Regions from separate parts of the Homo sapiens genome. Here region 1 is linked to region 2. A link means that fine-mapping ties the variant in region 2 to the expression of a gene that starts in the linked region. Tissue or cell type: cerebellum. Region 2 holds a variant in brackets; the other region holds the start of a gene. All regions are shown on one strand. Distances are from middle to middle.

The links. PIP is the estimated chance that this variant, and not a neighbour inherited with it, causes the effect.
Region 1: it holds the start of MLST8, and the variant in region 2 is fine-mapped to the expression of MLST8 in cerebellum (GTEx, PIP above 0.99).

The regions. Positions count from the first base shown.
Region 1 is chr16:2,202,321-2,210,320 of GRCh38, reverse strand. MLST8 (MTOR associated protein MLST8) reads right to left here and starts at 4,867. Exons shown (of 9, transcript NM_022372.6): 1 at 4,809-4,867; 2 at 4,107-4,290; 3 at 3,912-3,963; 4 at 3,662-3,824; 5 at 3,211-3,286; 6 at 2,976-3,128; 7 at 1,987-2,111; 8 at 1,708-1,871; 9 at 868-1,562. The coding sequence starts at 4,235. The coding sequence ends at 1,444. It overlaps BRICD5 (BRICHOS domain containing 5), which reads left to right. Exons shown (of 6, transcript NM_182563.4): 3 at 40-195; 4 at 270-371; 5 at 615-768; 6 at 865-1,068. The coding sequence ends at 959. RefSeq lists silencers at 13-203, 4,310-4,959 and enhancers at 2,534-3,372, 3,373-4,212, 5,052-5,892.
Region 2 is chr16:2,153,960-2,161,959 of GRCh38, reverse strand. It overlaps RAB26 (RAB26, member RAS oncogene family), which reads right to left. Exons shown (of 9, transcript NM_014353.5): 9 at 7,795-8,000. TRAF7 (TNF receptor associated factor 7) reads right to left here and starts at 6,178. Exons shown (of 21, transcript NM_032271.3): 1 at 6,102-6,178. SNHG19 (small nucleolar RNA host gene 19) reads left to right here and starts at 6,602. Exons shown (of 2, transcript NR_132114.1): 1 at 6,602-6,817; 2 at 7,038-7,178. It overlaps SNORD60 (small nucleolar RNA, C/D box 60), which reads left to right and starts at 6,855; the gene lies at 6,855-6,937. RefSeq lists enhancers at 1,492-2,073, 2,074-2,656, 3,823-4,404, 4,405-4,988, 4,989-5,570 and 3 more and a silencer at 6,044-6,133. The variant C/T (reference allele first, on the strand shown) is at 3,072.

The DNA of each region.
Region 1 (8,000 bases), 48 kb before region 2:
TGCACAGCTGCCCGGCTGAACTCCAACTCCCACTGCCAGCCAAGGCTGCAGACGCTGCGAATGACCCTCCCGAGCCCCCACATGCCCCGGCCCAACCAAACCATCCTGGTGGACGTGGCCCGGAACGCGGCGACCATCACAGTGACCCCACCTCAGAGCAACCACAGCTGGGCGGTGCTGTTCGACGGGCAGAGCGTGAGTGGGCAGGGAGGGGTCACCCTGGCAGGTGTCGGTCTGGGGGGCCCCGCCTCACCCCCCTGCCTCCCCAGGGCTGCATCTGTTACCGCCCTGAGGAGCACCAGGTCTGCTTCCTCCGCCTGATGGAGGACAGTGATCGGGAGACCCTGCGGCTGCTGGTGGATACCTCCAAGGTGAGCCGTCCTGCTGGGCGCAGGCCCGGGCCAGGGGCTAGACAAAGGGTCCTGTGTGCAGCCCAGTACGGGACAGGCTGGAGCTGTGGTTTCAGGGAACAGGAAGCTCTCTCCGCCCTAAGCCCAGGCTGCTGACAAGAGCTGAGGGTGGGGACATCACTGGGGGTTGGAGGGTACCCGGCCCTGCCAAGCCAGGAGCAGGGAGCAGCCCTGTCCCACCGCCCACCAGAGCCTTCTCAACAGGTCCAAGAGGCTTGGGTCCCCAGCCAGGACACCCACCACACCCAGGAGCTGCTGGCAGTGCAGGGGAGCCTCGAAGTGGACCCCGCCCAGGCGGGGGCTTTGGTGCAGCGCCTGTGCATGAGGACCCCCATCTACTGGGCCCGGCGAGCAGAGGGTGAGTCAGGACCGCTGTGGGGGAAGGCCAGGCCCTCGGGATGGTTTGAGGAGCTGGGGGCGGAGCCCTTGGAGATTCACGGCACCCTCGCCACAGGGCCCCGGAGACAGCGGCTGATTTATCTCTGCATCGACATCTGCTTCCCGAGCAACATCTGCGTGTCGGTCTGCTTTTATTACCTCCCAGACTGAGCCCCCGACCTGGCCCAGCCTGGCCCGTCCCCAATCCAGTGGGCTGGCCAGGCCACCTGCACCAGGGAGGACAGCTGCTGGCAGGGACTAATAAACCCTTCCACCTGGCCATGGTGGTGGTGTTCTCTATGGACCGAGGCCCTGAAACGCGGGCAGGGAGGGGCAGAGAACACACTAGCTTGGGGGTGGGCACCAGCCTCAGACCCCTCAGCAGCTTTGGGCCCTCGGCCGACTTTCCCAGGCAGTGCAGGCTAGCCCAGTCCAGGAGTGTGCAGCCTGGCTTGGGTCGAGCTCTGTCACATCTGGATAAGCAACTGGGGGCTGAGAGTCCCAGGGCAGCCTGGCCCAGCAGGTCAAGGCGCCACAGGGGGCCATCAGGTCCAGCTGGCGCAGGCCGGCAGGGGAGGGTCTGCTCTGACCTGGGTGCTGCATGGGTCCCTCCAGCTGCCACCACCTGCACCAGGCAGTCCCGAGGGGTCACAGGCTAGCCCAGCACACTGTCATTGAAGGCCAGGCAGACAACAGCCTTCTGGTGGCCGCCATACTCTCTCTTGATCTCTCCAGTCTCCACACACCAGAGCCGGGCCAGGTTGTCCGAGGAAGCTGGAGGGGGAGATTGTGCAGGGCTAAGAGCGCAGGTGCAGGCCAAGCAGGCGGCCCCAGCAGAGGGGAAGCTGCAGCCGAGGTGGGCTGGCTCTGGAGGCCAGCGCCGGGGGCCAGGGATGGGGGAGGCCAGGGCGGGGCTCACCAGTGACGATGTACTGGGAGTCCCCCGAGAAGGCGCAGCCCCACATCCAGCCGCGGGAGGACTCCCCGGGGTTGCCGCTCTTGATGCTCAGCTCCGTCATCAGGGAGAAGTTGGACGTCCTCCAGATCTTGCACGTCTGATCAGCCGAGCAGGTGGCGAGGAGCCTAGTGGGTGGGCATGGGGCGTGTCCAGCAGCAGCCACTCCATCCAGCAGCCCCTCCCCTCTCCAGCCCCCAGCCCAGGCAGGTCCCCTCCCGGGCCAGCAGGCCCTGCACGCACGTGGAGTCGGGGCTGAAGCGACACTGCAGGGCGTAGCGCGTGTGGGCAGGGATCTTAGTCTTGGGGATGAGCTGGGTCACCTCGTCACCAATGCCCCCCGTCAGATTCCAGACATAGCAGTTTCCCTAGAGGTCAGGAGGACCGTCACGGAGGGCCCAAGGCCTCAGGTCTGAGACACAGGGAAGGATGCCCTGGGGGCCAACACTGGGGGCCAACTGTGCATGGGGACCCCGGGTGAGGGGCAGGCAGGCCCCTCTGGTCCTGCCTGCAGAAGGCACCTGGGAAGCCTGGCCCCAAGCAAGGGCCACACCTGGCAAGCCAAGAACAGGAGGCCACGCCTGGCCAAGGACTCAAATTCTCCTTCCTGGAGGATGCCGATGGCCAACGGAAGTAGACAGGAGAAGGGCACCAGCTAGAGAGACAGCATGACAAAGGCCAGCAGAAGGGAAATCCGGGGGCAAGAGGTACAAGTGATGCACTGGGATTAAATGAAGTTAATGAAAAAAAATGAGGCTGGAGAGAAGAGCAGGGGCCACGCCACAGCAGCCTACGGGCGAGGCCAGCAGCCCCGGGTCTCCTCAGGGGAATGACGCCACCTGGCTGATACTGACCAGGCACCACTAGAAGCATCCAAGAGAGAACGTGTCAGGGGCCAGGGGAGGTCAGGGAGGGGGAAAGGAAGCCTCAGAGAGTGTGTCAGCCGTCACCAGAAACAAGGGTGACTGGGACCAGGAGGCAACAGAGTGAAAAGAGGGAAGTGGATCGACTTGGGAGAGACTCCAGAAAGCGGAGTGACCGACCTGCAGACAGGACTAAGCCATCGGGAGCGACACTAAGGCTTCTGGCTTTGCTGGCAAGGTGGGTGTTAGTGCCCGGGATGGGGAAAGCAGGAGGGGGCCGCTAAGGGACATCCAGGAATAAGCCCACCTGCAGAGGCTGAGGGCTGAGTGCCAAGCTGCCCGCACCCAGCACCTGCCACCAGGACTCACGGTGCTATTGACAGCTGCCATGTAGCTGGCGTCGGGATCGATGTGGGCGGACGTGATGGAGACCTCGGGCTCAGGGATCAGCTGCTCGTTGTGGTCTGTTTTCAAGTCCCAGATGTGGATAGCCCCGCTCTGGTCACCCACGATGAGCTCTGCCTGGGGTGCAGGGGTGGTGAGGCAGGGCCCAAGCCCAGCCCTCCAAAGTCCCAGGGTGCCTGGCCCCATGAGCACCCCTCACCTGGTTGGGGTGCAGGCACACGCAGTTAATGGGTGCGTTCACCTGGAAGATCCGCTGGCACTGCAGGTTCCGGGACCTGCGGGCCGGGCCGGGGCACATGCTGTCCATCTGGGCTTGTTGGTGCCCTACCCAGATGGCCTCGGCCTGGCCATTCCTCCCCTCCCTCTGCTGAAGGACCTGCCTCTTGGGAAATACTTGGGACGCAGGGCCCTCTGCTCCAGCAGGGAGCCTAAGCCAGTGGCTGGTGGAAGGGGAATAACAAGCTGGCTCCGGGCTCAAGGCAGGACTCGCGCTCTGATGCAATTCACTCTCCTCCTGTCCTCACTTCTCTCAGTAAGTCGCCCACAGGAAGCTCCCTGTCTCAGCCTCTGCTTGAAGAGAACCCAACCTAAAACGGTCTCCCAGAGCAGCCCACCCCAGCCCCGGGCAGCACGCCCCCTCCCCACCGCACCTGAGGTCCCAGATCCTGGCTGTGCAGTCCTCGCCGCCCGTGTACATCCAGCGGCCGTCTTCGTGGAAGCCCACAGACGCGATGTTCTTGTTGACGCCGTCGTAGCTGATGATGGGGTTAGGGTTATTGGAGTTGAGATCATACATGCGGATGTGCTGGTAACCTAGGGACACAGGCTGAACTGAAGCTTGGCTGTGCTGAGGTCGACCCACCAGAGCTCAGGAGTTTAGAGATCAAGGATCACAGATACCTGCAGCAGCAATCATGCTGCGGTCCGGTGTGACCTCCAAGGCATTCACCTGCTGGGACTGTTAAGGAGGATGACGGGAAGGTAGCCCTGAGGCCAGGGCCCCCCAGGCCTCCACCATCTGGCCTTCACACAGGCTGTGGTCCCCACACGAGGCATCCCCCCAGCGCCGCCCTGCCCGCCCCGGGTGGAGGATACGGAGTCCTGGTGCTGCACCGTCCGGGTGCAGATGCCGCTGTGGGCCTGCCAGAAGCGCACGGTGTGGTCGTAGCCTGCAGTGGCCAGGATGACCGGGTCACTGCCCACCGTGCCTGGGGAGGTGTTCATGGTGTGGCCTGCACGGGCCCTAGAGCTGAACGGCAGGGGTCAAAGGTCAGAGCATCTGCAGAGAAGGATGTGAAGTACTTAGAAGACACTCTCTGTGCTAAGTAGATTATAGACCCACAAGGCGCTGCCGAATGGCGCTTATCATTCCCATTTTAGAGTTGGGACAAGAAGCGCAGGTAGGTTCAGGGACACGCGTCACACGCGTGATACCTGGCTCCGGGGCTCCAGGGCGCGTGCTCCATCCCCGCCCCACGCACACGGCGGGGGCGCCGTCCCCCCCCCACCTCCGCAGCCGGCAGGGGGGAGTCACGCGCGGGCGCCACTCTGCCGCAGGGGCGGGCTGCGCGTGCGCAAGGCGGCGGATGGGCCGGGGAAAGCCGAGCGCTGCGGCTGCGCATGCGTAGCAGGCCAGCGGCAGGCCCTGATGGGAAAGGGCGCAGTCTGGCTGGACCCCCGAGCTCCCCTTTCCTCCGGTGACCGCCCTTGCTCCGTCCTGCTGGCCGGCTTCCCCTGGCCGTGCTCTCCCAGCCACCCAGCAGCCGGTTCCCGGCCCCTGGCTCGCGGCCTCCGTACCTTACGGGCGGCTCCGCACTCCGCCGTGTCCAGGACGGCGAGGGGAGCCGGAGCGAGTCGATCGAGGCCGAGCGTAGAGTTATCGATGGCTCCCTAGGGCGAGACCATGGCGCGGGCGGGGGTGGGTGGGACGAGACCAAAGTTCTGGGGCGGGGGGTTCCCGCCGGGAGGAACTCGGAGCGGTCCCCGTGCGCGGCCGCGGGCCCGGCGCGAGGTGGAAGGAAGCTGCGGCTTTCTCTCCGGCCTCCTGCCCACTGGCACCTGCCCTTCTGACACGGCTGTCCGTTTCCCGGGCTGTCGGGTCGCGCTGTTCCGGTGCCCTCCCTGACCCACTACTGCGCCACGCTGGGCTAGGATTGGCTGAAAATTACAGGACTTGAATTCAGACAAGTAACGAATAATTTTTTTTTTAGTGTAAGTATATCCAGGACATTGCATGGGAAATACTTATGCTAAAAAAATTTTATTGGGTATCCTGTAGTTTTACTTGCTAGATCTGGCACCCCAGCCCCAGCCTGACCCTCAGGACATCCCACTGAGCCCAGGGTCCCCCTCAAAACCACAGGCCCTCATTCCAGCTCTGTGAGCTCCACGCCGGTGCCCTCACCCTTGAGACAGGCTGTCGCATGGTTTTTTCCTGCTGCTCTTACAGACCTGGCTGCACCCCTTCCTCTGGCCGCAGAGGGGGTGCATCTTGTCCCTTGACCAGGCCATAGTTCCCATGGAGCCTTCCTTCCTATACCTTCACCTCCTCTCCTTCCTGCCGGTTAGCCTTTAAAAAAACACCATAAAACAATCCCAAATTATCTTCTTCAAAGAGCGGTCCTCACCATTTTTCTAGTTCCACGTCCTCACCTCCCACTCATTCCGCAACCCCAGTCATCTGCCTTTTACCCCCAGCTCTCTAGCTCTCCAGTGGAAATTCCTCAAGGTCACTGACAATCTCACTTTGCTAAATCCAGTGGATACTTTTCCTTCTTCCCACCTTTTTTTTTTTTTTCTCTCGAGACAGAGTCTCGCTTTCTCGCCCAGGCTGGAGTGCAGTGGTGCAATCTCGACTCACTGCAAAACCTCTGCCTCCCAGGTTCAAGCGATTTTCCTGCCTCAGCCTCCCGAGTAGCTGGGATTACAGGCACGCACCACCACACCTGGCTGATTTTTGTATTTTTAGTGGAGACGGGATTTCACCATGTTCGCAAGGCTGGTCTCAAACTCCTGACCTCAAGTGATCCGCCTACCTCAGCCTCCCAAAGTGCTGGGATTACAGGCGTGAGCCACTGCGCCCGGCCTCTTCCCACTTCTTCTTTCTTTTTTTTTTTTTTTTTATTGAGACGGAGTCTCGCTTTGTTGCCAGGCTGGAGTGCAGTGGTGCGATCTCGGCTCTCCACAATCTCCACCTCCCGGGTTCAAGCTATTCTCCTGCCTCAGCCTCCCGGGTAGCTGGGATTACAGGTGCATGCCACCACACCCAGTTAATTTTTCTATTTTTAGTAGAGACAGACTTTTCACCATGTTGGCCAGGATGGTGGATGGTCTTGATCTCGTGACCTCGTGATCCGCCCCCCTCAGCCTCCCAAAGTGCTGGGATTACAGGCGTGAGCCACTGCGCCCGGCCCCCTCCCACTTCTTGACGCATCTGAGCCATGGTTGACGGCACCATGCCTGAAAGGCTGCCTTCTCCTAGCTCCTGTCCCCGACATTTAGTCTCTTTCCCTGCCTGCCCGCAAGGACTCAGGCCCTTCAGCATTCACTCTGTGCACCCCACGAGATACCAGGGGGCTGATGACTGCTAGCTCTGGAGCTTCCAATGCTGTCCCTGTCCTGGGCCCCTTCCACCCTGTCTCCAGCTCTGATGGCCTCAGCTCCCTGTTAAGACACTGTCCCTTGAATGCCCCGCAGGGTCCACCATATTCCAGGGCCAAGACAACCCATCCCTGAGTAGCTCCCCTTCTGTGGGCAGTGCCCACCTTGTATTACAGCTGGGCAAGATCCGACACCTCCCCTCCCTCACCCTTCCCTTCCCTTCAGCCACCGATTTTACCTGTGATATACCTTCCTGTCCTTTCCACTGCCCTGGTTCTAGCTCACCACCCCCATCCCCCATAAAAGCCTCCTTCCTTGCCCCAGCCACTCTGGCCCCCTTCCAAACTGTCCACCACAGTGCAGAATGGCCTTTTATTTATTTATTTATTTATTTATTTATTTATTTATTTATTTTTGAGACGGATTTTCACTCTTGTTGCCCAGGCTGGAGTGCAATGGCGCGATCTCGACTCGCTGCAACCTCCACCTCCTGGGTTCCTCAGTCTCCTGAGTAGCTGGGATTACAGGCATGCACCACCATCCCAGCTAATTTTGTATTTTTAGTAGAGACAGGGTTTCTCCATGTTGGTCAGGCTGGTCTTGAATTCCTAACCTCAAGTGACCCACCCACCTCAGCTTCTCAAAGTGCTAGGTTTACAGGCGTGAGCCATCGCGCCCGGCCAGAGTGGCCTTTTAAAAACCTCAGTCTGAGCCCAGCACAGTGATTCATGCCTGTAATCCCAGCACTTTCGAAGGCTGAGGCAGGAGGATCACTCGAGCCCAGAAGTTCAAGACCATCCTGAACAATATAGTGATACCCCATCTCTACAAAAAATTTAAAAATTAGTCAGGAATGGTGGTGCGTGCCTGTGGTCCCAGCTTTGGGAGGCTGAGGTGGAAGGATCACTCGAGGCCAGGAACTCGAGGCTGCAGTAAGCTGTGGTTGAGCCACTGCACTCCAGGCTGGGTGACAGAGCAAGACCTTTTCTCAAAACAAAACAAAAACCCCCAGCAAAACCTAGGAATGACTTGATCACCCCATTAGAAGCCCTCAGGGGTCCCTGTCCCTCTCCAGACTCCTGGGCCTGGCCCTGGCCCTGGCCCATCCTGTGGCTTCCATCTCCTCTCCATGTGATACCATTAGGCTTTGTGTCCCCACCCAAATCTCGTCTTGAATTGTAATCCCCATAATCCCCATGTGTCAAAGGAGAGACCAGGTGGAGGTAACTGAATCATGAGGGCAGGTTCCCCCATGCCGTTCTCATGATAGTGAGTGAGATCTCAAGAGATCTGATGGTTTTATAAGGGGTTCCTCCTCCTTTGCTCCACTTCTCCTTCCTGCCGCCTTGCGGAGAAGGTGCCTTGCTTCCGCTTCGCCTTCCGCCATGA
Region 2 (8,000 bases):
CAGGGGCTCCTGAGTGTGGGCAGTGCCACACACCTGCAGCCAGGCTCAGAGGAGTCAGCCCTGGGACAGAGGTGTGGTCGTGGTGTGTCTACAAGGCTGCTCTGCCCTGGCACATGTCTATCCCGTCTCCAGCAGCTCCCGGCAGGAAGGTCGGGGAGAGCTGGCCAGGGCTTGCCTTTTGCCATTGTGCTTGGGGTGAGGATGTCCCAGCTGGGGTAAGGCCCTGATAGCCTGAAGTGCAGGGCGCCATGACTCGGCACAGGAGGTTCAGCCCTTTTGGGAGCCCCAGGTTGGCTCCTGCCCTCTGGGAGCAGGGAGGGGATCACCGGGCAGCCACTAGGAGACACTGACCTGCATTTTACAAACCCATCAGCTCCCTGTACTGCAAGCTTCCGGGGCCCCAGGGCCAGCTGCAAGCCCTGCCAGTGATGCCTGCCCGGGGGCCCAGGTGGCCAGGACCCCAGCAGGCACTCCCCTGGGATGGGTCGGGCTGGCCTCAGTGCCTGTTGCTCACAGTCTGGGAGAGCAACTGTCTGGCTTCCCCCTCACTCTGAAGTGAGGTGAACAGAAAGGCACGCAGGGCAATGTGCAAATCAGCCAGAAAGTCCCAGCTGGCCAACAGCAGCCGGGCCACGGGGACAACACCACAGGATCTGTGGGGTGTGCGCAAGACCCCATCGAGCGCCAGCTGAGGGGGACGGAAGGAGGGAGGGGACGGAGGGAGGGAGGGGGCAGAGGGAAGCAGGGGGACGGAGGGAGGGAGGGGGACGGAAGGAGGGAGGGAAGGAGGGGGATACTCTGCACAGGAGGCTGCTTCCCAGTTCACTCGGGTTCAGTGTTCAGCCCCAGCCAGGGACATGGAGGCGGGCGGGACCCTGGGGCTGGAGGCCAGGGAACGTTTGTGTCCCGCCCTAAGGCAGGATCCATCCCCGCACCTCGGAATTGAGCAAGATGCCCGAGGCCTCCCCTCAGCCCAGTCCCCAGGGACTGGGTTTTGCAGTAAGTTTCCCCAGTAGGGAGAGGACCCCTTGGGCCACAACTGGAAAGCACAATAGCTCAGCATCCCCTGATGGCTGGGAGGCTTTTCTGGGGGCATGCCCTGGCCCCCCAGAGGGAGAGTGCCTCTTTCCCCACCCCACAGTCATCGAGGCTGGGGGGTGGCCGGGCAGGAAGTTGTCAACCGGAGTGAGAATTCCCCTTCAATTCTCTGGCCTCTCTGCCCTCCAGTTCCCAGTGCTGGGGAAGTGGGGGTGTGTTCCATAGAATGAGAGACTCTTCCCAAACCGGGAAAAGCCATGGGGGCAGCTAGTGGCTGAGAAAGGGCTTTCCCCATCAGCCCCCCTACCCCTCCCTTCCATGTCCCCACCACGCCTGCCCGAGCACCGCCCGCCCACCCACACCGCCCGCCCATCCACACCGCCTGCCCGAGCACCTCCCGCCCACCCACACCGCCCGCCGGTCCACACCTCCCGCCCGTCCACACCGCCCGCCCATCCACACCGCCTGCCTGTCCACACCACCTGCCCGTCCACACCACCTGCCCGTCCACACTGCCCATGCTGGATGCTCCAGGAGTATTCGATCTTTGAAAGAGAAAAGTCATTGAGGAAGCGCAGCATCCACCCTGGGGAAGGCCAGTGCTGACCTTCAGGGGCGAGGTGCGTGGGTCAGCACCGTGCAGAGGGGAAGGGCAGGATTGGCCCCCCACCGTCCCCTCCAGCTGGGGCCAACGCAGGGCAGCCCCTCCCTGACCTCGCCTGAATCTGGGATTCAGGCCCAGGGTCTTTGTCCACCCCACATTCACGTAGGAGGGATTCCGGGGCCCTGGGGGCACCCACTGTGCAATAAGGAAGTGGAAGTCTTCCTCAGCGCCTCGCTGCCTCCACCCCAGCCCCTCTTCGGCAAATCCCTCAGGAGCCCCTCCCTAGCTCCCACAAGCTGGGCTTAGAGGGCTCTGCTGGGGCATCGCCCTGGGGGCATGTGGGATGCGGACACCCACCCCTTTCCCTGGAGACACACCTGGAGGGGGTCTGGGTCAGGGGTCCCCGCCCACTTGGCAGCAGCCTGGGGGGCCCTGCTGAGTGGGGGAGATGGGGGCTTCCAGATGCAGCTCCCTGCTCGGGCCAGGCCCGGCCTTAAAGCAGCTCCTCCAGCAACCCGGAGCAGGTGGGGTGTGGGGGTCCCCTGAACATGTGTGGGGCGCAAGCCATGGGTGGGTGTGCCTGTGAGGCCTGCAACTGCCCTGGGAGGAGCCTGGGACGGCTCCAGAAGCCTCCGCCCCGCCTGCCACAGGGCTGTGTGTGGCCGGCTGGCTGGACTGCGGCCAGAGCTCCGAGCGTGGCCCCTGGCATCACAGAGCCTGCCCAGGGCACCCACAGACTGCCCGCCCCAGCCCAGCCCCTGCCTCAGCCCCCTGGCCCAAGCCCAGGCCGCTAAATTCTATAGAAACAGGCCTGGTTGCCATAGCAAAGCCACACGCACTTCCGCCGCTGTTCCCTGACGTCCCTTAGAACGTTTTTTCCATCCCAAATAGGCAGGGTGTGACGTCGAAGGCTCCTGGGGTGCCCCGGCCTCTGCCAGCCTTGGTCCTTAGGATCCCCTCAGAACCCCAGCAGGCCCTGGTCTGAGGCCGGCTTGGCCCCGCTTCCCTCCTAGCACGGCGAACCCCCTTGCCTGTCCCTGCCCCCAACACCCACAGCCCCAGCTCTGCAGAGGCCTCTGAACTCCTCCCCCAGCTCTGCTCCTACTGCATCCACTCAGCCTCCAGGCCTGTCTTGCCCTGGCCAAGCCTCTCCAGCGTCCGTATCTCCCTCTGCTCCAGGGAGGGGGTCCCCACAGCTCGGCCAAGGCTTTACCCCAACTTCACAGTAAGGATGCCTTTTGCTGCCCCTCCGACCCCTTGGGGGCTGGCAACATCTCTCAGTCCTTTTTTCCCCTGTATCTCATGGCTGTCTATTGTGTGGGGACCTGGCCCAGTCGAGGGGAAGTCCAGAGGGCTTCCTGGAGGATGAGGCTGCTGGGATCCAGAGTGGGGAGAGTATCCTGGGGCACAGGAAGAGACCCCAGCTTCA[C/T]AGCTCTGGGCTGGGGAGTGCGTTCCTGGCTCTCACCCAAGTCAAGTGGGCCTCAGACTCTCAGAAACAGGTCGTGAGCTTTGCCCAAGAGCCAAGGGTGGCAGTGTCCCCCCCCCCCCCGCCGAGCCCACGCTTCCCAGTCCCACGCTGTGTTCTCATTTGCTTCCTGTGTGGCTCGGTCTCCCGGGCTCCCTCCTTCCTTCTGCCCTGCAGCAGCAGGGAGCTGACATAAACACTGGCCATACATGGGCCCGAAGAGGCAACAGGAATGTGAGGGCAGAGACCACTGACCCCCTCAGTCACCCAGCGCCCTCATGCCAGCGTGCCACCGCACTGCCACCTCCTTTCCCACACCGTCCCACGGCCCTCAGTCCTGGCCCTCTGCGTCGCTGCCCCCTACTTCCCACCTGGGTGCTTCTGGGGTTGGGTCACCTCCACCCCGAGTTTCCAGGCAGCCGGCTTCCTCCAGCCGGGTGAGGGTGTCCGGGTCTACACGTGACCAGCCCCAGCCTCCAGTGCCCGCTTTCCCCTTTCACCTGCCCCACCTGGCTGCACCCTCCTCCTCCAGGGAGCAAGGCTGGGGACAGCAGCGGATCTGTCAAAGACTAAGGGGTTGGTGGGTCCCTCTCCACAGGTTCCCCCCGCATGATCCACACAGAGGGCCTGGTGAAGTCCTCGGTGCCCACCCACTGAGAAGGCCGGACTGAGACACACGCAGCCAACAGCTCTCGGCCCTCCCCACATGCCCTCCCTGACCCCGCAGGGTGTCCATCCAGGAGATGCTGTGACACCGTGGTCAAGGCCACAGGCACTGGGCTCAGACAGAGCTGGGTTCAAAGTCCACTTCTACCACTTCACAGCTGTGTACCTGCCCTCCTGGCCTCGGGCTTCTCGAAAAACGGAATAGAGCCAGAACCCTGTCTGGAAGGAGCCGAGAGAAGATGGATCCGTCAAGAGTGAAGGCACCCCAGACAGCAGCTCCTCTGCTGAGTGGACCATGGAGGCTGAGGAAGGCGGAGAGGCCGGCCCAGGGACACAGCCAGCAGGCTGTGCCGCTGTGACCAGAGTCACATTCCTTCTGCTTCGTCCACGGCTGCCACACATCCAGGAGCCCCGGCAGCGCCTGAGCCAGTCCCATGCCAAGCCGGGGAGTGGCTGCATCCCAGAGCCAGGCTGCCCAGGCCTCCTGGCCAGGAGGCTCTTCAACTGCATCTTCCTCCTTTCCCCAAACTGCTCATTCCTTGTCCAACCAGCTGGCCGAGAGTCACACCAACCACGGGGTGCCAGGCCCCATGCGGGAGGGTGGGGATGTGTGACGGCTGAACACGAATCTGACCCGGGAGGAGCTAGGAGCCTTGTGGGGGACACAGGCAGACAGAGGGGCAGGAGCCCCACCAATCGCCACTCAATCTGCCAAAGGCACTTTTCGGTGGGTGCCAAAGACCCTGAACTTTTCCATTCACTTCCAGAAATATCGTAACACTTGGCCCCAGTGGGCCACGGTGGAAGTCACTTCACCAGAGACCCTCAGGTTGGGGCGTCAGGTTGGGGTGCTGACTCCCAGCCCCTCCCCTCCTTAGGCCAGGCTGCCCATACCACTGCTCCCCCTCAGGACACGGGGCCCGAGGCTTCCACAGAGAACTATGAATGCCCAGAACAGTGAAGTCAGGATATTCGCAACAGAGAGGCACAGGGAAGGGGTCTAGGAAGGGAGAGGCCCAAAGAGAAGGAATGAGGAAGAGGGAGGCTCCTCACTTGGCGAGGGCTAGGGGGCCTGTGTGTGCCCAGGAAGGGGTCTGAGGGGTAGTGAGAAAGGTGGGCAGACAGGCTGGGCGGCATGAAATTCCTGAGCAAGCCAGCAGCCCCTCACCCCCAAGAGCAGGGTGGGCTCCAGCAGGCCCCTGCCCCTGGACTCCAGACTCAACCCCAGCTGACCACTCTGGCCTGGCTCAAGACAACCGTATCTTGACAGCAGGACCCCAGTGGGGACTAGGAGACGATGGCCTAGCCTCCCTCTCTCCTGCTTCCCCAGTGAACTCTGAAGTCTGTGGTCCACACACAGTTAGAAAGCTCTTTACTGGACCTAGATCGGACCGCCTCTCCAGCGCTTCCTCAACCCCAAGTCATTTGCCAGCATAATAACCCCCCCGCCCCACCCCACCATGCACCCTGTGAGCCTGGTCCGGCCTCATCGACTTCACCTCTCCACTTGCCAGTGCTTGCTGGGGTGCGTCAGGCCCCTTCTCACCCCAGGCCTATGTACATCTGGCTCTTTCTACTTGGAATGCTCCTCCTGCATGTCCTGGGACTGGCTGCTTCTCCAACAGGCCTTTGGCTAACGGTAGCGCCGCCCCTACCCCCGGCCAGTACTCACTTTTTCAGCACCCTCTTTCTTTCTTTCACAGCACATACCGCTGCTCCCCATGATTTTAACTACCTATTGTCAATCCCACCACCCTGTCTGTCTAGATGGGGGATGGGGGGAGTTGTTCCGCAGGAGGCATTTGCCAATGCATGGAGACATTTGTTATCGCAATTGAGGAAGGGGTGGTGTTTACTGGTATCTAGCGGCCAGGAGCCAGGCAAGCTGTTCCACATCCTACAATGTACAGGGCAGCTCCTCGCAGCAAAAAGCGACCCGGGCCGCGTGGTCGATGGTGCGGAGGTTGGGGAACCCTGCAGCAGACGCCGAGCACAGGAGAACTGGGACCGTGTTCTCCGCGGTCTCCCGGCGCCCAGAACAGTGCCTGGCACCCGGGAGTCTCGGGGAATGCAGGAAGAAGGAATGAGTAAAGAACTGCGCGAGAACAGGACGGAGCGAGGGACGGACTACTGACTGGCGGACGGACAGCGACGCGGACCCCGACCCTGACCCCGACCCCGACCGTCTCAGCCCCGCCCCCCCCTCCCCGCCCCGGCCCGACCCCTCGCCTCGCCTCGCCTCGCCTCGATCTCCACGCGCCCGATCCCGCCCCACCGCGCGGTCCCGAGGCGCGAGCCCCGGGTCGGGCGCGCCGCGGGGACACTCACCCGCCCGCGGCCGCCCGGGAGCGGCAGCGCCGCCAGCCCGCTTCATGATGCCCCCTCGGCCGCCGGCCGGGAAAGGGACTAGACGCGCGAGCCGGAAGCGCCAGGCCGCTGCGCCCGCCGGGACGTGTAGTTCCCCGCCTCTCCGGGCCCGGACGGCTGCCTCACGCGCCGCACTTCCGAAACTACGACTTCCGGCGGCCTCGTCGTCGCGGGGCGGGAATGGCAGCTTCAGAATCACTCTATGTTGCAGATCGAAGTCTGATTGGCTTTGTTCATCCGTCACTCACCGTTAGGCTTCACGGACTCTGCATAAGGGAGGAGCTTCGGGTCTGGGTCTGAGAGACCGTCTCCAAAAGAAATGCCACGGTACGATTGGTGGAAACAACGCGGCAGGGAGCGGAGCGTACCAGCGGCGGGGGAAGGCGGGCACTTCCGCCAGGATAGCCCAATGACAGAGGTGGGACAGTTTCTATAAAAGCTTGAGCCTCGCCCGCCCCTGTCTTTTCGGGGTCGAGTCCGAGGGGGAAGAGGTTTGTTAATACGTTCGCCATGTGCTACGATCTTGGGACGAACTGAGCCACGAGCGTGGCTTTGAGGGCCGTCCGAACGCTGCAGGCCGGCCAGGTCCCTGGGCGTCCAGGCCTGGCCTACGCACCACTTTGTCCCTTAGCGTTTAAAGGTTTCTTCCCGAATCTCAGGCCCTCAGCTACCTGCAGGTAAGACTGGGCCGGGCTTGGGTTCCCTTATTCTCCCAGTCTGTGATGAATTGCTTTGACTTCTGACACCTCGTATGAAAACTGCACGTGCAGTCTGATTATTTAGCAAGACTGAGGCTTGAGGGTGCGCACTCCTGACGGGGAGCTGAGAGTGGAAACAGGTGTTGCCCGAAACGAAGGAGTGGGGACTTAATGTCTGTATTTTGGCGCTGACTTTCAGGTTTCGTCGCGAGCCGGCTGCAAGTTTTGAACCTAAGTAAACCTCAATCCGGAGGGCCTAGCGGTAAGGTGGGCGCTGTGTCTATTGAAGTGCTTAGCAATAAAGAAAGGTAGTGAGTTGATTCGGTTTTCTCTCAAGTGTCTTTATTTTCCTATTCTGGCACCCCAGAGGTCTGGCTGATCCACAGGCAATCTTGGAAAAGGGTACAGACATGAAAACGGAAGCTCGTTACCAGTGACTTTTCATCTCTTGGGATTGCCTTCTCCATTTCTGCCCGTGATTTTTTTTTTTTTTTTTTGAGACGGAGTTTTGCTCGTTTCCCAGGCGGGAGTGCGATGGCACAACCTCCACCTCAAGCGATTTTCCTGCCTGAGCCTCCCAAATGGCTGGAATTACAGGCGCCCACCACCACGCCCGGCTAATTTTGTATTTTTAGTAGAGACGGGGTTTCTCCGTGTTAGGCTGGTCTCAAACTCCTGACCTCAGGTGATCTGCCCACCTCAGCCTCCCAAAGTGCTGGGATCACAGGTGTGAGCCACCACGCCCAGTCAAATACTGTTTTTCATGCCTTTTGCCCCAGGGTGAGTCCAAAAAGGCTTTTGAGATTTGTGGAGGGAAGTTGACACCACCTAGGGTTCCCATGTGCCTCCTTAGGGAGGCAGCCATGGGCCATGGAGGAATGGTAGCCACACACCTGCTGAGGGTTCTGGGCCTTGCTGAGTCTCTCAAACTCCAGCATCCTGCTCTAGAAGTGGATTTTTTTCAACAGATGAGACAGACGCTCCAGAAAACACAACTTTATTCACTAGGACTGAAAACAAAGGCTTGTGCAATCAAAAGGCCAAGTTGAGTGCAAGGTGGAGCGTGCTCGGAAATCACAGACCTCACCTGTGGCCAGGCCGGGCTGGCAGTTGTTGTTTCTGGTGTTTTCTGTGATTTCCCACATTTTATCACAAGGCCACA